Linked DNA regions of Homo sapiens: regions 1 and 3 are each linked to region 2. The links come from fine-mapping of genetic effects on gene expression. A gene starts in region 2. Each other region holds a variant in brackets. All regions are shown on one strand. Distances are between the middles of the regions. Region 1 overlaps AIMP1 (aminoacyl tRNA synthetase complex interacting multifunctional protein 1). Region 2 holds the start of TBCK (TBC1 domain containing kinase). Region 3 overlaps TBCK (TBC1 domain containing kinase).

Region 1 (10,815 bases), 38 kb after region 2:
TTTGCTCTAATTTTTCTCAATTATATTAAATTTCTTTAATATAATTTAAATAATATTTCAACTACCTAGGTAGTTGAAATTTTCCCAACTAAATGTTGAAATACTGTACCCCAGATCAAATTATCTAATGTTTTGTTAGTGAAACCTAAACTGATGATTAAATCGTTCATCAAACCTAGAGATAATAAAAACTATTGGTCTTTTGTTAAAAGCCCATAATGTAGCATCATCAGTAGCTCATTTGTGCTGAAATTTATGACGACTTACTACAAAAGAGTACATTCCAAAAATGTCACATTTGTCTTTCTCAAGTACTATATTATGCCTTACCAAATTATAACAAATGTCCATGCTTCCCTCCATAATTCCCACAGGTCTTTACCATGTAAAAATCCATGCTAAAGAGTGCTAAAGAGAGAAAGAAGTGGAGAATTAATCAGTGATTTTTCAAGTTGTATGAAAGCATTGACCAAGTTATCCATTCAGCCCTATTCAGTACTTGTTTTCACAGAAAACTTAATTCTGTTTTATTTGTATTGCTGGGATGGGAGAGCTCTTACGGAATCAACAAAGAAATAGCATTGTTGGCAAACTGGACATAACACTTCAGCATCTGATGTATTCTGGTTTTTAAGGATTTCAACGATAGGGGGTAGTGTTTGGTGGGAGGATCACTTTGAGCCCAGGAGAGCAAGGCTGCAGTGTGCTGTGATTGCACCACTGCACTCCAAACTAGGCTACAGAGTTGAGACCCTGTCTCAAAAAAAAAAAAAAAAAAAAAAAAAAAAAAAAAAAAAAAAAAAAATCTTAGTTGGGGAGCACCTCGCTGTTTCTTATAACTGGGCATTAAAATGGCCTGAGTATACCTCCTCAATTTTTCAGAGAAATGATACGTCCTTTTAAAATATAAAAGTATCAGAAGTATATAACATTAGCCATGTATTTCACCTACATAAATAGTGACACAAGTCCTGATTCTAAGTGCTATCCAGCAGTATGAAAATTACAACTTTATCACCAAGATGCAAAATAAAAAGAACTAGGAAGGGCAAATTAGTATGCTCAACAGGCAATAATGTTGCAAATTGCTGTCTCATGGAGAAAGCTCTACCCTCCAAAATTTTAGTTAAGGAATAATCATGCCTTCTCTAACAAATGTAAGGGTGATATATTAATAATACATGTCTACTGTCATGGATTTTATTACAGAATTACTATTAAGATTGTTATTGCCTTCTAACTAGTCTTTTCATGTGTTTTATCCACCCCTTAAAAGCTCCTTTTGAGGTAGATCAGCCATTTTACCCCAAAGAGTCAACAGAAAAGTTAAATAAATGCCCCATACAAAGTTGAAACCTGGTTTAATTTTTTTCAGTTCTTACTGATCCTGTGTTCTCCAATACATCATGCTTTCTTAACATGTTAGTTAAATGGTCATGTGGTTTCTTTTATTTGAATGAAAAGTTTAGCTTTACTTTAAATGTTAGAGAAAAATAGTGACATAAAAATACCTAAATTTGAGTAGTTTATGATTAGCTCCTTTAGTGGAATACTTAAGAGATTCTAAAGGGAGAGTTGAGATTATTAAACACTCTTTGGAGTGGTTATGAAGAGAATTTATCAATTTTTTTTCTTTTTACTATTCAAATATATAGGGAGAATTCACTTGGCAAAACCAAGCTGCTGCTGCTGGTAGCAGTTGCCTTTTTGAAGAGGTTTATACCATGATTCTTTGAATAGTGCGCTGTTATTGAGGGCACTGAATGTGTAATGACAGTCCATCCCAAAAGCCAACATGATAGATGTCACTAAGTTCCATACAGATAGATAATTTAAAACAGAAACATAGGTATACTCCATTGTGATACTACTTATAACCCCAAAATTTGCAATAATGATGAAAAGGATAGTTGCTGATGGCTAATATGCCTCTGTACAAAACTGAATCATCTTCAGGTACCAACTTGTTGGAATTAGAAAGAGTCACTTCACATTATTTTGCATTGTACTTTGTATAGTTATGGTTTTTCCTTTGAGTAAATCTTGGCAGAGATAACTCATAGGAGTATAACTCCATAAAAATATTTGGAGGAAGGACCCAGAACAATGAAATAATTGTTGGTGTGAAAGTGAGCCATCTGGAATTTCAGAGTGTGAACTAATTATTGTATATTGTATTTTTTCACCCTTATGTATTTGGGTTTTTTTTTCCCCTTCCTTTCTAACTTCCACCTATCCTAACACACACTATTCCCAATTCTCTAGATGTTTAAGTACAAAAACGTGTGTAAGTATGATTTTTGTCTTCATCAACATCATTTCCTATCTGGCAGGCTGTTGGCCTTAGCAACAGGAGCAGAAACAAGCCTGAGACCCAATAATTGCAAGAAAGAAAAATCCTTTTTAATGAAGCGTTAACTACTCTTGCCCTTCCCATTGCTACATAATGCCTACAGAATTGTTCAAATAGCCATTGTTAATGTCTTATTTCCTCAATGGCCTTTTTGTGATGAACCTTCATATTAAGGCTGCTCTGACAAAGTTTTACATTTGTTTTTGTAAATTGCCTCATTAGAATATCATGCATCCCAGCAGAGAAATGCACCCAATATATATGTGCACTTTGGTTTTCAGATTGCATATTTGGCTGATACTTGTTCATTTAAAATCCCTCAAATTTTCACACCTGGGGAATTTGGAAAGAACAGTGCAAGAGTCATCCAAAATCAACACCACAACTGTATTTCTCTTTGAAAAAGATTAATGAAAAATGCAAACTAAAAGTCACTTTCAATAAGTTTAGCAAAAGGGAATGATTTCAGTAGAAATAACTTTTTTCGAAAACTTTCAGTTTTCCTATAAAAGGATAACATTTTTGTGTTAAAACTGCACATACATTGAAAACAAAAACAAAAACTTTTCAGATACTTTTGGAGAGATTTGTTTTGAAAACAAAGTTGGAGTGAGAATCTGGGAAATAGCAATGCCACATAAAAGCATTAGCTTTATGTAAAAGAAGTACAGTATATCTGAAAATCAGTAGAATAGAAAATCTAAGAAAAATTTTAATATAAAAAATATAGATAAACATAGCTTTAAAAAAGAAAGTCTTTGAAAATGCTGTTTGAGGTGATGTATCTAGAGGAACAAGCCTGGCAAGAGTCAGAGCTGATAGATTGCAGGGGTAATCACTGGTGACCCCACATTGAATGCACTAATGAGACTTTAACACTAGCTGCACAAAAACATCAGATACACTGTCTTCCAATCCTCTAAAATACTCAAAGCACTTTCAAATTAAGCTTTAGTAGAGATTTTTGGTGTCTGGATGAGAACAGCATACAGATTAGGCATCTAGAGGGACATGAGAAAATATTGCAAATAATAGACTCTCATAGGAAAGGTGGCAGGGTACAAAAGATGAACTTGCTGGACATCGCTTATTTTACTTAAAGTAATCCTAGTCTCATGGTTCTTTAGATGCGTAGGGGCAGAAAGATGTGATACCTTTCCTTACCCATCTTAAGAGTCAAAGCTGACACTCCTGTAACAAAAGACAAGAGAAAAACATAAGTGTATTTAATCCAAGTTTTACATGATACACGAGCCCTCAGAAATGAAGACCAAAAGACTCAGGGAAAGCTGTCTATTTTGTGCCTAGGATTGCTGAAGAATGGACAGCCATATAGCAATGTAATTGGATAAAAGAGAAAGTGCTAAACTGTAATAGACTGGTCAGGGAAACCCAGCAAGGCCATCCAGATTCTTCTTGGTGTCTGTAGCATGCCTTCCCCTGGGTATGGGGCAGGACCCTTCTGGAATGAGGGTCATCAAGGGAGAAGGGAGACAGTGACCTTTCTAAGTTTTATGGCTTGCTTTCAGGATAAGAAATTCTGGTTTCTGTGACTTTCTTCAAGGGGAAAAAGAGGTGGAACATAGGAGGGCAGGAGAAGGACAGAAAGACCTTGCCTCTGAAGCTCCTCCAATCTCCTTCAGTTCAAAGTACTCAGCATGCCAAGGTCTCGTATTTGGAATATGGTCTTTTGAGCCCCCAACAGCTGCAAGTTGTAATTACCTCCAGAACAGATGAGTTTATTCAATGAATATGCACACACTGTCATCCAGAAAAAGCTGAACAAACCAGCCTCAAATGGAGAACAGCAGCAAGACGTTCACTTCAGTGCCTTAACATTCATATAATCCAACATCCCCATTACCAACTAACAAAATATTTCCCTACACCCACTATGCTGATTCTTATGAAAAGCTAGGATTGCTATTGCATAATGGTACACAGAAGAGTATGTCTAGAATTTAATGCTTCATGGATATTATACTAGAATTCAGAGTATATTGGGAAAACACACTAACCAGAAAGATGGGAAAAGATGAAGAGGAAGGAAAACAGTGGTAAGATATGGACCTTCTACTATTTGTATATTGAATTAAAAGAGCTAATGATAAACTACCAGGATATATGCAATGTAAGTTATAAGAAAGGACTCTTGAAACAAAAGGGACAACCTGCAAGGGGGAGTCTTGAATTAAATAATTAAATATCTGAGCACAATCTAGTAATATGGTGAAAGGAAAAGCATTCCAAAGTCCACTTTTCTGGGGAGGATAGGAGAAAGAGAACTAGGGCGGAAATGGAAGTATTGTAAGGGTCTTATTTTAATAGTAGGAAATTCTTGGTAAGGGAAATAGTTCATACTGTGTCATCAGGCAATAGCAGAGAAGTATGTACATGATTGTGAAATCAGGGGCAAGAAAATAATCTTTAATGAGGGTGAATTAGAATAGAACTTCCAAATTATCAAGGGGAAATATTGAATTAATAGCAATGTTATCAAGGTAGCAAAACTAAGGAAAAGAAAAAATACAATAAATACACTAATATAAAATAATAAACATAATGTAATATTCTGTGTCCTTGTAAAGGAAGATTTAATATCATGGGGTGTCATTTACCATACACACACACACACACACACACACACACACACACACACAAAATATTTTTTTTTTAATTTAGGAAAAACAATCTAAGAACATGTATGAATGAATGCCTGAGTATAACCAGAAAATATTTTGAAAAAAGAAAACAAGTTTGACCTCCTAGATATCAAGGAATGATATAAAATTATTACAATTAAATCACTTTGGTATTGAGAACAATATAAATAAAATAGGTAACAGAATAGGATTAAAAATACAGGATAAATCCAGAAATAGATCCAGGATATACGTTTCAGTCTCTATATCTAGCTACCTACCTACCATATAAGTAGTAAAAGGATGAATTTATAAATAGAACAAATACAACTGGTTACTCATCTGAAAGGAAGTAAAACTAAAACCAGCTATATCATGTACACGGAAATATATGACTATAAAAAATTTCACAAATTTAGTTTGGCAAAACTTACCATACAAAGTTAAAGGACAAATAATAGATTTGAAAAAACAATTGTTACTCAGAGGACAGACAGAGGGTTAATATCTGTAACATACATAGAGCTCTTCCAATTTGCCAAACAAAAAGTAATCCAATAGAAAAAGAAATGACAAAAGGACAAAGGATGTGAAGAGCCAATTCATAAAAGACTAAGTCTAAATTACCAAAATGCTTACACAAAAATGTTCCAAATACAGAAAATCGTTCCAATTGGGAAATGCAAATAAAGTAACAGTGGGCTGTGGTTTTACATTTATTCAACTTGTTAACAATAGGTGTTCAAGATGATAACACCCATTGATGGGGAGAAAACAACTCACGTTGTTGGAAATCAAGTTTATCACAATATTTTTACAAAGAATCTGTTAAGATATATTAAATGTAT[ATATACTTT/A]TATACTTTTATATATATACTCTTGGGAATATAACTTACAGAAAAATAGTATTAACTAAAAATATATGTACAAGAATAGTTGCTTGAGCATTGCTTTGGGTGACAGAAAACTGGAAAGCTCATCAACAGAGGAGCAGTTGCATAAATTGTTACATAAACACTGTGAAATGTTTTGCAGCCTTTAAAAAGAATGAATTTGGGCTATATTTTAGGTTTGGAAAAATTTAAATGAGGTGGTGTTGAGACAGCCAAGTAAAAAGGGCTCCTGGAGAATCTCCAACTGGCCTGCACACAGAGAGGACAAGGTGGAGCCGCGGGAAGTTCTTGTTGTTTGCAGAGAGGAGGAGCCTAGCCTCTCCTGTCACTGGGTGGTAACCTGGGATTCAATTGGTGAGATGGGGTCCCATTAACAGGAACCCCTCTCACTTTGCTGAGCTTTTTTTCGTTTTTCACCCAATAAATTCCGTTTTTCTCACCCTTCTATGTGTCCATGAGCCTAATCTTTCTTGGTCGTGTGACAAGAACCCAGTTTTTAGCTGAAACGAGGAGAAAGTCCTACAACCGTGTTAAAGTGAAAGAAAAATATATTATGAAGAGTGTAATACAAAAACTTGTTTTTAAGTTGAAAAGCCCTGTATATTTTTATGTGTTTATATGTGCTGTGTGGGGATGATTACCTGGACATGAAGAAAAATAGAAACAGTGGACACCAGGCTTTTGGTTGGCATCAGTTATCTGTAATGGGCAGATTTGCAAGGAGAAGAGGAGAGAGGTAAAGGCAAAGCAAAAAAGCCACATAAGACTGCTAAAAGAAAATAAAGTATGTAATACTACCACATTTAAGTATTTATGTGGAAATGTCTGTGTGTGTATATACACACATGTATACACAGTAGGAACACCTTATCCAGAGGGAATATGTTCCAAGGCCCTAATGGATGCCTGAAGCCAAAGAGAGTACTGAGCCCTAAACATACTATGTTTTCCTATATGTACATTCCTGTGATAAAGTTTAGTTTTTAAATTAGACACAGTAGGAGATTGACAAGAATAACTAAAAATAAACTAGAACAATTACAACAATATACTGTAATAAAAGTTATGTGAATGTGGTCTCTCTCTTAAGAAATCTTATTTATGTAATATTTCCAGATTGCAATTGACCACAGGTAACTGAAACCACAGAAAGTGAAATCACAGATAAGGGGTGATACTGTATATGCAAATATAAAAATAAATAATTCAGGGAAGAATATCACAGAAATCCTCTTTGACTAAAAGCACCTCTCTATTAATCATCAATATCAGGCCAGCCTCACAGAGCTTAAATCCTTAATGTTCTGCACCATATATACTTCCTGAAATGAACTAGTTTTTGTTTTCTAGAAAAGTTAACTGACAACACATAAATGAAGCATATGAAGAACTTAACACCTGAATTCTTTTCCATTCTCCTTTTCTCCACCAGTCACCATTGTTTCAACTTCTTAGCATCAAGTCTCTTTCTCTGTCCCAAGCCCCAACAACCCGTGGGGCAAGTGTCAGTTCTCACTGCACTTCCAAACTCTGCCCCATTGTTGAGTCTCCCACTTCTCAGTCCAGGGCCCACAGCATAGGAGCAAGAGGTCATGCAAAGAAATAAGTGAGATGTTGTTTTAAGTTGGAATCTGTATTATGCTTTCCTATAGAAACATTTTATAAATCTAGCACAAATTCAAACGTGTACTGGAGTTCACATAATATTGTGCATTAAAGTAGGCTTTTGAAGACTACTCTGGGAGAATAACCACCGGCTTATAAGAACAAACTGTAAATTGGGAACTATCTTTGTGAAAAAATTTTATAAATTATGAAGTTCATATACAAATATTTATGAAAGTGATCTAATTTTGACTTGCTGGTGGACTTCACTCTTATCACTGATTGGAATTATTTTCCTTCAATTTTCACTGCTACCATTGGGACCATCCTGAAGCTCTCCACTAAACCATAGTGGCCAACCTTCAAAGGTAGAAGGTCTTTAGTGAAGGCTTTATTCATAGTCAATTATCACAATTGTTATACTCATTTTTGCTAAAGGGCTTGCTCTGAGTTTTTACCAAATGTTTCCAAACTGAAATAGAAACCACAGGTTACAAGGAAGTGGAAAAGAAAATTAACATATTTTAAGCAACTACCATGTGCCATGGCATTTAATCATTACAATAACTATGAGTAGGTATTCCAAAGAAGGAAACAGACTCTGACAAGTTTAAACAATTTTTCTTTTCTGGCATCAAGTAAGCAGTGGAGCTAGTTCCTTTTTAATGGATAATAACTAATTATTTTTAACTTTTATTTAAATATAGCATATACAAGTAGTTTATAAATCACAAGTGTTTGTTGTTGCATTTTCACAAAGTGAACAAATCCTGTGAAACCAGGCTCCAAATCAAGAGAACAAAAGAACATGACCAGAATCTCAGAAGCCACATCAAGTGTAACCTTTCACTCACAATCTCCTCCCCAAGGTTAACCACTCTCCCAATTTCCAGCACTTCTACCATCAGAGTAGTTTAGATTACATTTGTTTTACTGTTTTTGAACTTTCTGCACATGGAATCATGGAGTATGTACTCTTTTATGTCTGGCTTATTTTTCAACATTATGTTTGGGCAATTCACTGGTATCGTTACATATAGTTGAGCTTGCTTATTCTAATTACTTATTCTAATATCCCACTGTGGGAATATACCACAATTTACTTAACCATTCTAATATTAATAGACATTTGAATAGTCTGTATGTTTAGCTTTTGAATAGTAGTTCCATGAACATTATTGTGCATACATGTCTTCTAGTACACAAATGTACACATTTATGTTGGGTATACACTTAGGAGTGTAATTGCTATGTCATGGGATTTGCATTAGAAATCTTGAATCATTGATGTTCTTTTTAACTTCTAGTTTTCCAAAGTGGTTATACCAATGTACACTCTCACCAGCAGCATATCAGAATACTTATGGTCCACATTCATGTCAATAAAGGCATTCTTTGTAGCTAGGTTTCTGACTCCAATACCCAATGCTCCTTTCCTTTCACCTAAATTTTATTTAAATGTAAGAACTTGGTAACAGTTCTCTTTTATAAATTCCATGATTCTTTCTAAGATTTTCATTCTTTGTTCATTGAGTGATTTTCCTTTTTTGTACTGGAAAACGTATTTGTGCTGAATAGAATTTAGCAGCGTTTTCAGGGTATCAGAGGCCTCATGTAAATATTTATCTTCAGTAAGCCCAGCCTCTTCTATTTTTTCTGCATGGGTAAAAAGAATGGCTGTGTAATTCATCCAAGCATGTCCAAGAAGTTCCTGAAAGAGAGAAGTTAGATAACTATTGAACTTGAACTATATTCCTCAAAAATGAGCAAAGGATTTATTACGGTCCAATATAGATAGCCAGCAGATCCATATTATTATGTTTCTGAAAGCTGATATACAATGTAGGAAATGAAGACAGGGTCAAGTATTTTAAGTAAATGGAGGGAAAAGGCTTGACTTTCTGAAAAAGGCAGGATTAAACAGAGAATTAAATTCTCTCTTTTATTTTACTATGATAATTGATATATACACAACCTCAAAACTGCATATTATCATTGCTGCATAGATTTCTCAACATTCAGTAATCATTTATACTTGTCTGACTACCTGAGTCCATTAAAGCCACTGAATTTAAGTCGGAGGACCTTAGTCAAGGGAATTGTTTTATCTTTTACTTTTATCATTATCATTAAAAGCATCTACTAAAGATATAAAATTACATAATCTGTTAAGAATCTATTGATTAATCAGGTGACATGTAATGGAAAAGCTCAGATAAAAATACATTTGGTGATTTGGACGAACCACAAAATATTATAACTGTGAGTCTCATCTTCTTGACTTCACATGCTTAGAATGGAACCCAATTTATCTGATGACTTCCTCTAATGTGGTTGAAAAACATTGAAGACTGGCATTCCTTTGTTTAGTAATATGTGGAAGTTGGTTATGTAATAAATTCTTGTTTGATTAGTGAATATAAGCTGATATAAAGCAGAAGTAACAGCATGTGGCAAATTGTTCATGTAATATAAAAGGCATCTAGAAATAACCCTTGAACTTTTTGGGATATTTCTAAAGTTACATGAAATCACAATGTGACAACAAAATAACATTACCTCCATTCCGAACACTCCTATTACCAAAATATTTCCAAAGCTACTACTAGTTTATGGCAAGAAAAATACAAAATGCCTAGGAATAAACATAATAAGAAACACCCAAGACCTCTAATAATCAGAAGAAAGAAAGAAAGGAGAAAAACTAACATTTAGTGCCAGATATTATGCTAAGCACTTTACATGCGTTACCTCTTTTGAAGCTTAATGCAATTATTTGTGGGAGATACTATTATTATCTCCATTATGATATTGGCAAACTGACTTATAAAGACTTTGAGTTATATGTATTAGTACAAACTCTGGTTTTAAAAAATTATTGAAAATATTGAAAGACAGTCTGGGAAATCATTTTCAATGTACCTAAAAAATACAGGATTAGAATTTATAATATGGAAAAATTGAAAACAAAGAAAAAAGAAGAAGGAAATAAGAAAGAAAACAGAAAAGGAAGAAAGGAGAAAGGAAGGAAGGAAGGCAAGCAGGAGTAAGGAAAGAAGGAATCTGGATAGGTAAATCTAACATGAAAATACTCGTGAGAACTACGGGACAAAACATTTAAAATTAGAAACATCACAATCATGGTCACCAATTACAACTGATACAGTCTGGCTTTTATCAGATTCATTTATTTATACATCAATTTCTACAACTTCATAGTGAACTCTTTGAAGGCAAGATTCATGTCTTTCCATATCAATCAAAGCTTTTAGCACATTGTAAACTTTCAGTAAACATCTGTTAAATTAATTTGGAATTTAGAC
Region 2 (10,815 bases):
ATTGTAAGAATATATTCAATAAGTAAGGGAATTTAAAAAAAATACTCAGAATATGGGTTACTACCAAATTAAAGTGGGGTAAGGTTAGGGAAAAATTCATAAAAAGCTTCAAAAATCTTGAGTAATAGCCTAGTTTTTAGCTGGTGAATTAATGGGTGTTCATGTTATCATTATGCTTGGTAATTTCCATGCTCTGTATCTATATTTATCTACATATGTGTGTGTTAATACCACATATTTCATAATTAAAAGAATTTAAATAAAATAAATTGATTCTCAACAAAAGCAAAAGAGTTCAACAGGAAAAGGAAAGTCCTTTTTACAAATGGTGCTGGAAAAAGATATTCATATAAAAAAATAATAACCTCAACTTCTACTGATACATCCACAAAAATCTAAGATGGAACATAGGCTTAAGCGTAAAAGGTAAAACTGTTAGTCTTCTAATTGAAAACATAAGCGAATATCTTTACAACCTTAGGCTAGGCAAAGATTTCTTAGACACAATAGAACAAAGCACTAGCCACAAAAGACAATTTTGACAAAGTAGACTTCATCAAAATTAAAAACATCTGCATATCCAAAGGCACCCCTGAGAAAATAAAAATTCGAGTTAAAGGGAAATATTATTTACATCTGTCTGTATATACATATGACATTATGTATATATATGACCTTTTAAAATCAAACATATGTGTGTCTGTATATAATTGACCTGTATTCGGAGTCTATAAAGAAATACCACAATTCAATAATAAAACAAGCCAATACATAAATAGGTAAAAGTCACAAACATATTTTCACACAAGGCATGAAAATAATAAGCACATGAAAAAGTTCTTAATATCATTAATTGGGGGAAATGCAAATGAAAATCACAATGACAAACCTTTAACTTCTACAATGGCTAAAATTTAAATGACTGGCAGTAACAAGTGTTGAGAATGTGGAAGTGGAGCTTTGCTATATTGCTAGTGGGAGCGTAAAATGGCAAAAGAATTTTGGAAAATATTTGGAAAACTTTTCTAAAGTTAAAAATATCCCTAACTTATGACTCAGAAATTCCACTCTTTAACCAAGAAAAATGAAAACATTTGTCCATAAAAAAAAACACTGTATGAGTATGTTCATAGGAACTGTACTCTTAATAGCTAAAAACCAGAAGCAATGCAAATGTCCCATAAGTGAATCAATTAACATATTTGTACCATGAAATTCTATTTAACAAAAATGGAACAAACATGTCAAAACATGGATATACTCAAAAACATAAAGTTTATGAAAGAAGCAGACACAAAAGAGTTCATACTGTATGACTCCATTTAAATGTAATTCCAGAACTATAGTTCTAAACTATAGTATTAATAAAAAAATCAGAAGATAGTACTGTAGATGGGGGAGAGGGGTTGAATAAGCAGAGAAACAGAGGAACTTTCTGTAGTGGTAGAAATATTCTCTATCTCGATTGTGGTGGTAGTGGTTTTATGGATGAGTACATGCATCAAAACTCATTAAATTGGCCACTTAAAATCAATGTGTTTTAATATGTATCAAATTTTATCTCACACAAAATAAAACAGCTTATGAGAAGATAAACACTGCTATACATTTTCAAAGCATCAAACGTAACTAGAAAATTGTAAACATTTCAGACAGAAAAAACTGATTCTGCTATCAACAAGTTAAAGTGAGACTGGCATTCTCATCAGCAATAATGAAAGTCAGAAGAGAGCCTGGTGCAGTGGCTTGTGCCTGTGATCCCAGATACTTGAGAGGCTGAGGTGGGAGGATCACGTGAGGTCAGGAGTTTCAGACCAGACTGAGCAACACAGTGAGACTCCAGCTCAAAAAAAAGGAAAAAAAAAAAGTTAGAAGACATGGAAGGATTGAGAGTTGAAGGAAAATACTTTTGATTCTATATACAGCCAAATTATCAGTCATAAGAGCAAATTATAATTTACAGCTATACGAACATTAAAAAATAAAATTACCTTTCACTTGCCTTTTGTGAGCAAGTTTCCTTAGGATATATTCCAGGGAAATAGGGGGAAGCCCAATAACAGAAGATGAGGGGCTAAGAAACAATGTTATTTACCCAAGAATGAATATAAGCCCAGGATAGGAGCAATACAAAAGGACTAGAATGCAATCTGTTCAAATTAAACAGAAAGCCATTGGGCTTTAAGGGGAAAATCTTCAAACAGAGGAATGGAAGCTTGCTTCTATGTGCATCATACAAAGAATGAGAAGATTCAGTGAAGAAAGCACATCCACCTACCTATTCCCCAGGAGAAAGCAGAAAGGCAATTAAGAAAGTGGGGACGGTTAAAAACTATGTATTACATACTCCAAAATATAAAGCATGCTCAACTACAGCATATTTTGCCCTTGGCAGGAAAGAAATAAAAACCCATTTGACCTTGATATCATAAATAATCTCCTTAGTATGGCACAGGGATCATGAAGTTAAAACTCTGGGGAAAAAAACATATCAGAGCATACAGCTTGGACTTGCTCTAAGTAACAACTATAAAGCCATAATACTGTAAACATTTTATTTTTTTTATTGGTTTTTGGCACGTGAATAAAGCGCAAATGTTATAGTTAAGAAATATATTACTAACTTTGACAATGTACAAGTAAATGTCCAGCTAAGAGAAAGTGGGCATAAATGTAGTTTCTGAAGTGATAAAGAAAAAGGTAGAATCACTACTTTTCTCGTTTTACCAAACAAGGAGTCAAATATATTTTCAAAAGTTGATGTGAAAAAAGTAGTTTACGTATATTATTTTGAATTATAAAGTAACCAATACAAAAACTAAAAATTATGATTATGACTCTTCCAAAATTCAGAGGAGATTGTGAATGGTGTGGGCTATTTCTAGAAGTCAACGGAAAAAGAATTAGCAGTTCAACTTAGGGCTATCTCAAGAAGTCAACAAAAAGAATTAACAGTTTAACTTATTATTTAACCTACAGACCTAAAATTAGAAAAGGTTAAAAGTGGTTATCTTTGAAGAACAGTACTGAGAGTAGGACAGGTGAGACAGTTGCACTTTATTATTCAATCCTACTACGCTATACTACTTGATTTTTTTTTTTTTTTTTTTTTTTTTTGAGACAGAGTCTCACTCTGTCATCAAGGCTGGAGTGCAGTGGCATGATCTCGGCTCACTGCATCCTTCCACCTCCCGGGTTCAAGCGATTCTGTGCCTCAGCCTCCAGAGTGGCTGGGATTACAGGCGCCCGCCACCACGCCCGGCTAATTTTTGTATTTTTAGTAGAGACGGGGTTTCACCATCCTGGCCAGGCTGGTCTTGAACTCCTGACCTCAGGTGATCCACCCGCCTCGACCTCCCAAAGTGCTAGGACTACAGGCGTGAGCCACCGCGCCCGACCATTTTATTTTCAATCAGATGTCTTTATCATCACATAGCTGAAAATAAAATAACCAAATAAAACACAATGATCGAAAAAGATAAAACACTAATTAGCATAATCAGTGTTCTTTTTCCACTACCTCTTAAATGGTTGTACATAAAAAGGCTCACACACAAAAATACACACACATACATTCACTTACACCTCGTGAGTGGAAGAAAACTACCGGGGGAAAAAAAACGTAGAGATGAGAGATTAGATGAGGGAAACAGCAGTGCAAGCAGTTGGGCTTGAAAATTCATTCATTCAACAAATATTTTGAAGCCCCTATTTTAAGTCAGTTGTTTTTCCAGCTGGTGGGCAAAGGATAATGAACAAGTCAGACTCTGTGCCCTCAAAGAACTTAGAGTTTTAAACGACTCGAATGGGGAAAGAAAGTAAAAAATAGGGCAAAAGACGCCGATTTTATCATGAATAAAATTTCACATTTCTTCAACAGGAAAATGATACTAATTCATTTATTTTATATATACATTCTCTCAAGAGGTTATTTTTGTCTCAAATAGATAGAAACCAGGACAGGGATCCTTGAAAAGCAGCCACTGACAATCCTCAAGTAACTTCCTTCCTCTGCTTCACTTTCTCCTACTGCTCAAGGGGGTGTTACACTTTGACGACTGACTAAACCTCGAGGGCCAGAAACAAACCAAAGCAAAATTCTGCCTCCAAGGTGAGTAATGGAGGGGCGGATTCTAGATTCTCTAACCTCCTTTAGCCTTCCTTTGAGGCAGTGACAGAGCGATTACTAAGCCTACGGTTCCCAAACGACTCAGGTGAACCTGATTTACAGGAAAGGCGGGCTGTAGCTAGGGATGGAGACAGTACCTATCAGCAAGCGGCTCCACAGCTCGGTTCTCTATCTATTCTGAAGACATGCGGGGCCACTCACTGCTCCTGATAGTCCTCTACCTCCCACAGACCCCACCCACTACGACACGGAAAACTGGATTACCCAAATACCTGCCTCTGAGTCTGGGGACGCAGGCAAGCACAAAGACAAGGGGGATGGAGCTTCTACACAGGGCCCCAGCGCTGTCGCTGTGGCTGCTGCTGCCGCTACGGCTTAGTGCACCAGACGCTGCATTTCAGGTGCTCCTACAAAAGAGGCCACTCCTGGAACGCCGGGAGCTCAGACGCTGCCCTTTGCTCGCGAGCCAAGTCAGCCAAGGTTAACCTTCGCGGAACCCGGCGAGGAGCGCAAGCCTGGCCTTCCCCAAACACAGATCCGAGCTTTTCACCCTCTACCCTCCCCTCAGCCTGGCCTTTTCTTCCGCCCTCACAGCCACCGCGACCCAACGCTGAGGAAAGACCCCGACTTGTGGTGTCCTTCCCCTTGCCCAAACTGGCCACGAAAGGACATATAGCGAGAGAGAAAGAGGTGCGGGGGGACGGGGGGGGTCGATTGAAAATACTGGGTGAGGGAATGGAAGACGAGGAGCGTGGTATGGCAGGTTAATGGGACTGAGCACAGGAAGAGGAAGAAAGAATTGAGGGTTGAATCTGTAGAACACTCAGGCTTTCAGCAAGGACACCTCATTGGGTCCTTTCTCACTGCTATAGTACGCGGGTGGCTGGACCTACATGCTTCCTGCTGTGGCTGTCTCGGAACCCGTGGTCCTCCGCTTCATGTGAGTGACGTCGTGGCGGGTCACTCACTCGGGGATCGCCGATTGCGATCGTAGGGGTCTTCCTTCTCTAACTTGCCTCCAGGAGAGAGGACCTGGCCTGCGCTGCTAATGGGTAGTCCGTTCGCAGCAGGACCAGCCCTGGCCTAAGGAAACAGGAAAGAGTTTGAGACTTCCTTCTAAAGGAGCCACGTTTGAGAAATGGGATGCAGGCCTAAGTTAAGAATGCTACAGAAAAATATCGATCCCTAAGCGTATTTACTGTTATGTGAATGTGTGTGTCAAAGGACTTAGGTGCTTTGGGGGAGAGGAGGGTGAAGACAGGAATTTATTCATTGAGCGAATAGTTATTAAGCGCCCACTCTATTCCAGACACCGTTCTAGGCATTAGGTGAACAGCAGTGAACAAAACAGACGGAAATCTGTGTCTACTTGTAGCTCACATTTTAGAGAGGAAGGCACATACTAAGCAAAGTAATTAGAAACATACTGTATTTTAGGTCGTGATAGTCCTGAAGAGAAACGTAAAGCAGGGAAGAAGGGTATAAAGTGACACAGGAAGGTCTTGCTGAAAAGATGACTTTTAAGTAAAGGGCTGACAGAAGTGGGAGATTTAACCACGCGAATATCTTGGGAAAGTGCAGTCAGACAGAGGGACCAGCCATTGCAGAGGTCATGAAGCAGAAACGTGCTAGAATAGCAAGGAGGCCTGTAGGGCAGAGTTGAGTGAAGGGTTTAGTCCTTCACTGGAGATTAAATCAAGGCGAGCAGGTCATGAAGATCTTGAGGACATCTAACTTTTATTCTAAATGAAATAGGACTTTGGAGCGTTTTGAGCAGTAGAGTGATGGGCTCTGACTTCCTTTTAAGAGGGTCACTCTTTAAGGAAAATACACAGAGGAGGACGTGGTAGGAGAAAGGAGACCAATAAGAAGAGTTTTGCAATAATCCAGAGGAAGCATAATGGTGGTTTGACTATGGGTGGTAAGAAATGGCCAGTTATATTCTTGATGCACTTAATTTGGATATGTAAGAGTATTATAGATGACAGGGTTAATTTTATTTAATTAGGCTTTGGAGGACACTTGAAAAATGAATTCCAGTGTGAGTTTCAGAGTGGCAAACACAAGTTAAAATCATGGCTTTGCTATGTGGTACTTGAAGGGATTCAGATAAGTCATGTAATTTTCCTGGATCTGTCTATAAAATGGAAATCACATCTGTCAAGATTGCAAAGGTTAGGGTATATTATAGGTATTTAATGACAAGGTATGTAATGGGTCTAGTCTGCAAATCTTAACCAGGTAAAAGATGGCCTTATTGTGAGGTAAGAGGGTCATGGGAGGCCAAGGCATACTCCTTTTTAAATTTTATGGACTCTGTACTGGGGAGGAAAGTTTTTGTGTTAATGACGATGGTATTTAGAAATGCATGGACTGGCCTCTCATAGCTGTCCACCCTATAGTCATTCCTTATAGCCATCCTTTAAACCCTCCAGGACCCCCTATGTCCTCATCAGTAAAGGGAAAGCAGGCTGTCTGGTAAGGGAAATAGGAACTTCCATAAAAAAGCAATTTTAGATATTCTTTTTATAGGTTTTGGCAAAGGTTGATAAAAGACCTAGGGAATTACTGCTGGTTGCTGCGCTTACATATTTTGAGTGTCTTCAGATGCATTGTTCTCAGTGTATTTAATTTTCTTCTTTAAATTCTGACTTTTGACACATATGATTTAAATCCTAGCAGGAATTTTCACCTAGTGCTAAAAGGTACCACATTGCTTTACACTATAATAAGGACGGTCTTTCAGTGTGGGGTATTTTATGTATACTATAATATTTTTACATATCCAGTAATTAGATTGTGTAGCAAATCAGGGAAAGAAGTTGGAAGGCAAGAATAGGAATGAAGGGAGGAGAAGAAAGGAAGAAAATGATTAAAATTACTATATTCCATCAATTCTGAGATACACATTTTTCTCTTACTTAACATCTCTGAAATAGGGATGTATTTTTAAGTTGTTGACATCTTTAAATCACTGTAGATGAATTGGCAGTTGTGAGATATTTGTCATTGCCCACACTTACACCCACTTAGTCATAACTTAATCTTGTCATTATTTCAGTTGAGTTATATATGCACTATTGGCATATAGTTGTTGAGTGTAATTTCCCTTTTAAAGATCATTTAGAAGATTATGATTAGCATTAGAATGAAAAGTTACTGTGTATGTGGGGAAACAAAGGGTGATACAAGATAAAAATCCAGGGTTAAATTTAAAAGAAGTCTGTCAATAAATAATATAGGATGTGTCTAAGTAATAAGAAAGCATTGGGTCAGTTGATTCAATAGTGTTTTTTTTCATAATGTACATAAAATAATAGAGCTTCTTGGGATTGAAGCCATTTTACAATTGATGGCATTTTAGATTTCTTGTATAGTATTTAAAGCTTCCAACAAAAATGTAAATTTTTACCTACTGTAATTCTGAAATAGGGAAATTAGAGGTTTTGAGTAGAGACACTTTCAAATTTGTGTAGCGTTCCTATATAGCATAAGAATTCTAAAATTAAAAGTCTGCCTGTAAAACTTTGATTTCAAAGTAGTAACTTACTTATGTTTGATTCCCAATGTTGTCATCGTGGGGCAGAGATTTTGCTTTTTCAAAAAGATTGCAGGCAATTTAGATGGTGTGGGTGGGGAGGACTACTGAGGAAATTGCTCAGTAAACAAAAATGATAGTGAAGATCTCAGAATCTCAAAAATCATCTTTTGTGTGTGTATTTTAATGATTAAGATGTACTATAAATTCATGTACAGTATTTGGGATTCTGCATTAGAGGCATCGTATGATTAATGGCTTTTTAGGTTTGATGAAGTATGATAATTAACATTGAGAAGGACAAAATTAATGTGAAGGGACAGAATGATTTAGATAATATGTTTCAAAAGCTTTTGTCCTAAAAAATGCATTATTACCATTTTAATTTAGTAAAGGAAAAAGAAAAGGTCTTGATCCTCACCAAACACAATTAACATACTTGGTCTACAGTTTTCTGTGCTTCTCTCTTCATAAATGTTTTATATTTTCAATTACTGTGCATGTCATTCTTATATCTATTTTAATCTCACAGTCTTAATTTTTTTACATTTTAGTCCAGAGACTTAAACTAGCATTTCCTAAACTGTTTTAGAGAATACTAGTTCAAATAAATGTTAATAGCTGTTCCTGTGTTAGGATTCTGTCATTAAATATATTGGAAAATGCTTCGTAATTATATCCTTTAGAGAAATTATAGCTAGAGCATTAAAAGAGCTAACTGCAGCATCAGACAGACCTGAGTTTCAATCCTCGTTTACTATGTATTACATGAGGCAAATTAATTTTAATTCAAGTTTTCTTCTCTGTATAATGGAGATTATTACAGTATTCGAAATTGACTTGTGTAAAGCATTTAGCCAGCCATAGCGCATGTTCTACAAATATATGTAGTTGTTATTATCATCTATGAGAAACTTTATACATATTAGAAACTCTGAGGATTTAAAATTTTGAAGGTTGACTTATACTCAATGTAAAATTGAAAAATCACAGGGGAGTAATTAGCATAGAGATTAATGAAATGAGCACTGGGTTGAATGGTAAAAGATTTGTTTGAGCTTTAAGCAGTATTGTTGTTAAACTATCACTGTGCCCTAAGCGTAACATTATTTTAAAAATGTCTTCAACTGTGTTTCCCCCATTTGTCTGAAAGCTTAGTTAGTTCAAAGAACATGTTTATTTTTGTTCTCTACTATAAACCCAGCACATGACACAAAATCAGGGAGTGTAAAGTTGGGGTCATGAACTTATTTTAGGAGCCTGGTAGGTAATATAAATGGCAGACAACAGGGAGTAGTAAAGTGTCTGTCTGTCTTACTTAAAGACATTCACATCAGTTATTTCCAACACTGTTAGCCCTGGAAAAGAAAGCTATCCCTGAACTTTGTCAGGCTAGTTTGTGATCCCTAGAAAAGATTAGTGATTAAGACCAAACCCTGAAGAACAGCATCATTAATGGGACAGATTAAAAAAAAAAGGAGCCCTGAAAGGAGGTGACAAGGAAGTAGGAGGTGAAATCAGGTACAAGTAATTTTTTAAATTAAGAAAAGTATAGCCCTCTCCCTCTCCCTCTCCCTCTCCGCACCGTCTCCCTCTGATGCCGAGCCGAGGCTGGACTGTACTGCCACCATCTTGACTCACTGCAACCTCCCTGCCTGATTCTCCTGCCTCAGTCTGCCGAGTTCCTGGGATTGCAGGTGCGCGCCGCCACTCCTGACTGGTTTTTGTATTTTTTGGTGGAGACGGGGTTTCACCGTGTTGGCCGGGCTGGTCTCCAGCTCCTGACCGCGAGTGATCTGCCAGCCTCGGCGTCCTGAGGTGCCGGGATTGCAGACGGAGTCTCGCTCACTCAGTGCTCAATGTTGCCCATGCTGGAGTGCAGTGGCGTGATCTTGGCTCGCTACAACCTCCACCTCCCAGCCGCCTGCCTTGGCCTCCCAAAGTGCCGAGATTGCAGCCTCTGCCCGGCCGCCACCCCGTCTAGGAAGTGAGGAGCGTCTTTGCCTGGCCGCCCATCGTCGGGGATGTGAGGAGCCCCTCTGCCCGGCCGCCCAGTCTGGGAAGTGAGGAGCACCTCTTCCCGGCCGTCATCCTGTCTAGGAAGTGAGGAGCGTCTCTGCCCAGCCGCCCATCATCTGGGATGTGGGGAGCATCTCTGCCCCGTCGCCCCGTCTGAGATGTGAAGAGCGCCTCTGCCCGGCCGCGACCCTGTCTGGGAACTGAGGAGTGTCTCTGCCCCGCCGCCACCCCGTCTGGGAGGTGAGGAGCGTCTCTGACCGGCTGCCCGGTCTGAGAAGTGAGGAGCCCCTCCGCCCGGCAGCCGCCCCGTCTGGGAAGTGAGGAGCGTTTCCGCTTTCCGCCCGGCAGCGGCCCCGTCCGGGAGGTGGGGGGCAGCCCCCGCCCGGCCGGCGCCCCGTCTGGGAGGTGGAGGGCGCCTCTGCCCGGCCGCCCCATCTGGGAAGTGAGGAGCCCCTCTGCCCGGCCGCCACCCCGTCTGGGAGGTGTACCCAACAGCTCATTGAGAACGGGCCATGATGACGATGGCAGTTTTGTCGAATAGAAAAGGGGGAAATGTGGGGAAAAGAAAGAGAGATCAGATTGTTACTGTGTCTGTGTGGAAAGAAGTAGACATAGGAGACTCCATTTTGTTCTGTACTAAGAAAAATTCTTCTGCCTTGGGATGCTGTTAATCTATAACCTTACCCCCAACCCCGTGCTCTCTGAAACATGTGCTGTGTCCACTAAGGGTTAAATGGCCCCTGCTCTCTGAAACATGTGCTGTGTCCGCTAAGGGTTAAATGGCCCGTGCTCTCTGAAACGTGCTGTGTCCACTAAGGGTTAAATGGATTAAGGGCGGTGCAAGATGTGCTTTGTTAAACAGATGCTTGAAGGCAGCATGCTCCTTAAGAGTTATCACCACTCCCTAATCTCAAGTACCCAGGGACAAACACTGCAGAAGGCGGCAGGGCCCTCTGCCTAGGAAAACCAGAGACCTTTGTTCATATGTTTATCTGCTGACCTTCCCTCCACTATTGTCCTATGACCCTCCCAAATCCCCCTCTCCAAGAAACACCCAAGAATGATCAATAAATACTAAAAAAAATTAAAAAAAAAAAGTATAGAAAATTTAGATAACTTTACCAAGGTC
Region 3 (5,000 bases), 140 kb before region 2:
ATGATAAGTTATTAGAAAAAATGTCAGTAAAAAAAACAATGTATATATTAATCAGCATATTTATGACTGGATTGATGGAAATATTTGGTATAATTTGCTTATATATATTTGTAAATGTATCTACTTATGTTTTCATGTGTGTCTTTTACTTGGAATTATCTACATATACATATGTATATATTTCAGAGTATCATTATTTAAATGCCACAGAATAGAACACATCTCCTTATTTAAAAATCTGCCAAATTTATGCTGATGTTTCCACTTTTCCAATGTGAAACAAAAGTTATAGGGGGAGAATACAATTTGGGAATAGGTAGACAAAAGATTTAGAAGATGTTGATTGCTGATTCAGAATGAATTCTAGTAAAGTGAACTGACAGTTTTACTGCCATTAAATAAGATATAAAATTATCAGAAAAAATTTTTCAGAATCTCAATTCAGCATTTCTCAATTTTTTTTTTCCTGTTTTTGAGATAGAGTCTTGTTCTGTCTCCTAGGCTGGAGTGCAGTGGTGCAATCACGGCTCACTGCAACCTTGGCCTCCCAGGTTCAAGCAATTCTCGTGCCTCAGCCTTCCTAGAAGCTGGGATTACAGGCCTATGCCACAACACCCGGCTAATTTTTTGTATTTTTAGTAGACATGGGGTTTCGCCATGTTGCCCAGGCTGTTCTTGAATTCCTGACCTCAGGCAATCCACCTGCCTCGGCCTCCCAAAATTCTAGGGTTACAGGGATCATCCACCATGCCCAACTAGCATTTCTCCATTCTTTAATAATCTCTTGAGTTAAATGAAGAAAGGTTTTAAAGTTTAATCAAGTAAGGTTTAAATGCACTTGACTAAAAGATAAAATAGAAACACTTTCATATTAGATTTCCTTTTGTTTCTCATGTTTGAAATGTAAGCATCTTTAATGCAGAGGTAATATACATAGAAAGGTTACTACAACTCTATATTGTTTGTGTTTTGGATGAGACTGTATCTCTTTAGGAGGCCAACAGTCCTGATGAGAAGTTAGCCAGTCCTCTATGGCGAAAGTAGAAAGATCACAGAAAGGCGGAGAAATTCAAGAAGTTGACTGTGATGGAGTTTAGCACTGACTAGTTTTTATCTTTCCATATTTCTAAAAGTACAAATGGCATATATTCTCATTTCCTCTGTAAAAGTCCAAGTGTCGGGCTCAGGCAGGCAATGGAGAAAAATATATTACATGTCAGAAAGTGGTAAGTTCTTTTTTTCTCCCCCTCTTTTTGAAATGAAGGGCTTGTAAGGGGAAAAGGAAATAGGCATTAAGTAAATTCTGTGGATAGTGCATGAGTAATCATTTAGAGTTATCTGCTGTGGTAAGGTGAAGAAATCTGGAAGAGGGAAAAAGAAGGTAACACTGACCATCTATTATGTGACAGGTATTGTATACTTTCACTTAATCCATTTAATTCTTACAATGATTTTATTAAAGACAGGTATCGTAATTCTTCTTCCCACCTTCTATTTCTGCTAAAGACAAAGAAACTAAGACACAAGGAAGTTAAGTGATTTGTTAAGTATGTTACTATGAGTAGAAGTCTGAAGTTACTATAAGGTTATAAGGCATCTTTTGTTACTTCCTAACTTAGATTTGGAATATGAAAAGATAGTCTGATAAGACCAGTTACTCAATTAGGCATTCCTTAGTGATGTTTACCAACTTCACAGCTCATTACTTCCATGGCTACAAAAAGAGGTCAGATTTCATCACCTCATATGCTATTCCTAATATAAAAACTATAAAACAGAGTGAAACAAGCTTTGAGGCATGGGCCTATTTATTTGGGCAATGGATAATATAGTGAAGCTCTCTAACAATATCAACTTGTTATTTCACAAAGAAAATACAAACACAAACTAGAAGAAAAATCAAGGTTTAAGACAGGTTTCTCTAGCCTGTTTAAGAAAAAAGAGATAGCACAATTCATTTTAGAAAACTTTCAATTCAAATAGTTAAGATAAAAATTTGGCAGCTAATGAGAGAAAATACTCAACCATCTAAAGTCTGTCTACTTAACACAGTTTAGTTTCCAAAGGAAAGGGTTTCAGTCCATAGATTTTGTATTTGCAGGGCTCAAATCAATTTGACACATCTGTCACCAGCAAAGTTTGAAGGTGAGTCAGTGATCTAGAGTAAAGGTTGTAGTGCAGTCCTTCAATCACTGGCATTGGAAAAGTTATTTTTATCTGCTTCCAAGACATCCCATCAACACCATAAAAGGTTTACAGTGAATCTTGATGATGTACTGGCATCCATCCCGATTCTACCCTGATGGTTAGTTCTAACAGATATCTCATTTTCCATTTCACTTGACTCATGTCACCTCTCATCTCAAAACCCTTCCAAAGCACATTATCATAATCAAAATATAATGCAAAAGTACTTTGTGAAGTGTACATTAAAATGCACAATTACTCCTACAAAGTAATCTCTCATTACATGGCACTACTGTTTTTTAACCTTGCATTATAATTATTGAGACAATGCATTGTGAATAAAACATGGATTATGGTTTCCCAGGTTTGAATTAAAGCTCCATGAGGTATTTTGCAACTCTGGGTAAAATAACTTCTCTAAATCTATTAATTTCTTCATTGGCACCCATTAGTATTAGATCTTTCAGAAATACTGAACTATTTTCAATATGATAAACACAACCATTTGGGCAAGGATAGATGGAAAAGACAGCTTTCCTGAGCCTGCTCTTCTCTCACTTTAATGGCTATAAATTCCTTCTGAAATTTATTGCATAGCTATTGTCCTGGAACTTCTCTTTACCATTATCCAATTCTCTTAGGCTATCCCCTATATTTGATTCCTAACTTTTTGGGTAAGACATTATTTACCACTCTTTCATATTTACTTCTCATTTTGATGAAACACATTATCCAGCAGCTACAAAGAAAGAGTACACAGGAGGTAAACTATTCAAAAACCTTCAATGAATATCATTAATCTGCCCTTGACTGATAGTTTGACCAGATACAGCATTCTAGGGTTGAATTTTTTTCTTCTGAGTTATTAAAGGTAGAGCTCCAATGTCTGCTGCTGA[G/C]AAGTCTGATAAAATTCTGATTTAGGATTATTTGTACATGATTTTCTGTTTCTCTGTTAAGTTTTAGGATCCCTGTATTATGAAATTTCATGGTGATATACTTACGCATATACTTCATTGTGCTGGGCATTTGGTGGATCCCTGAGTAGTCCTTCAGTTACACAAAAAGTATGTTTTTGATGTTTGTGATAATTTGTTTCTTTTTAAATCTTCTATTCTATAAGAATCTTGAACTTCCTGAATTTAATTTCTAATAATTTTGTCATTTTGTTCTTACTTTCCACGTGTATTTTTGTTTCATACTCTGTGAGATTTCCTAAATTTTATCATCTTACATTTTCATCACAAACATCATTGCATTTCTATATCAATTTCAATTTCCAGGCCAGGCACGGTGGCTCATGCCTATAATCCTAGCACTTTGGGAGGCCAAGGTAGGAGGATCACTTGAGGCCAGGAGTTTGAGACCAGCCTGGCCAACATGGTGAAACCCTGTCTCTACTAAACAAAAATACAAAAATTAGCCAAATGTGGTGGAGTGCACCTGTAACCCCAGCTACTTAGGAGGCTGAGACACGAGAATTGCTTGAACCTGGGAGGTGAAGGCTGCAGTGAGCAGTGATCACGCCTGTATCACGCTTGTACTCCAGCCTGGCTACAGAGCAAGACTCTCTCAAAAAAAAAAAAAAGAAAAAAAAATCAATTTCCAGATTTTCAACAATTTTCATTGTTATGTTTAAAAGTTCTGTTTTTTCATAGTTAATTTTCTCATAGTTATCTTTCTGAATAAATTATTTTTTCAGTTTATACTATTCTGTATCTTAATTGGAAGCTTTCCTCAGAGATTTTGTGATCTTTGATTCTACATATTTACAAGAACAGCACCAAAAATCAGATTGAATTTTTTTTTTTTTTTTTTTATGTGGGCTGGGGTTAGTGACTGGTGGATTAACTATAAGGTAATTTGGGGACATGGTTATTTTGTTAGAAGACTCCTAAGTAAGATATTTCTCCTTCTGGGAACATTGAGTTTTTCCAGATAATTCTCTGATCTTCTAAGCTCATCCTTGCCAGCCTTCCCAGATATGACCATAGGAGGGGCCTGTATAACTATATACATTCACTCACTCCTGCTCTCTGCTATGCCTATTGGCTCTGAGTCTCAAGACTCAGTGACTCTACTACTCCAGAGAATGCCTCTCCATATTTACCATTAAAATGGTCACTTTTGTAAAATTTGACAAAGTAAAAATATTTCAACCACAACAATGAAGAATGCTGCCTCTTTCTACACCAAATTCTCTCCATTATACTTCCTTGATATTGGGCAACATTACAATGGCTGTGCATGCTCTACATATAACTAAGAGTAAGCTGAACATATTTACTTTGGTTTAATAGGTCATATTTTTGTTATCTGAAGTAACTTCTGGGTATTGACAAAGATGCTCTCCTTAACCAAAGTCTAGCCAGGCTCCTTAGAGCCCTTTTTTGACTAGGGTCCAAACTTTGCCTATAAAGACTTGAACAAAACATGAAGATGGCTTGGTTTTTCTACTTTACTGTTATTTTTAAATTAATACATAAAATTGTACATAGTTTATGTATTAATTAAATATGGAATACATGTGATATTTTGCTATATGCATACAATGTGTAATGATCAAAACAGGGTAATCAGAACATCTACCAATTCGAATATTTATTTTCTTATGTTGGGAACATTTTAAATCTAGCTATTTTGAAATATATAACAAATTATTGTTAACTATAGTCATCCTACTGTGCTGTCTATTGAACAACAGAGCTTATTCCTTCGGTCTAACTGTATTTTGTATCCATTAACCAACCTCTCTCTTCATCCCCATCCCCCAGCCCATTCTTCTTAGCCTCTAGCAACTATCAATCTACTCTCAA

Evidence for each region. PIP is the estimated chance that this variant, and not a neighbour inherited with it, causes the effect.
Region 1: its variant is fine-mapped to the expression of TBCK in whole blood (TOPMed, PIP above 0.99).
Region 3: its variant is fine-mapped to the expression of TBCK in whole blood (INTERVAL, PIP 0.99).

The regions. Positions count from the first base shown.
Region 1 is chr4:106,349,241-106,360,055 of GRCh38, forward strand. AIMP1 (aminoacyl tRNA synthetase complex interacting multifunctional protein 1) reads left to right here. Exons shown (of 7, transcript NM_001142416.2): 7 at 1-216. GIMD1 (GIMAP family P-loop NTPase domain containing 1) reads right to left here. Exons shown (of 3, transcript NM_001195138.2): 3 at 8,152-9,203. The coding sequence ends at 8,943. Among named protein-coding and RNA genes, the nearest start is that of GIMD1, 14 kb to the right of the region's middle. The variant ATATACTTT/A (reference allele first, on the strand shown) is at 5,844.
Region 2 is chr4:106,311,526-106,322,340 of GRCh38, forward strand. TBCK (TBC1 domain containing kinase) reads right to left here and starts at 4,684. Exons shown (of 26, transcript NM_001163435.3): 1 at 4,406-4,684. AIMP1 (aminoacyl tRNA synthetase complex interacting multifunctional protein 1) reads left to right here and starts at 5,025. Exons shown (of 7, transcript NM_001142416.2): 1 at 5,025-5,069. RefSeq lists enhancers at 4,264-4,353, 4,434-4,493, 4,984-5,233.
Region 3 is chr4:106,171,375-106,176,374 of GRCh38, forward strand. The region is part of intron 22 of TBCK (TBC1 domain containing kinase); the gene reads right to left. Among named protein-coding and RNA genes, the nearest start is that of TBCK, 140 kb to the right of the region's middle. The variant G/C (reference allele first, on the strand shown) is at 3,084.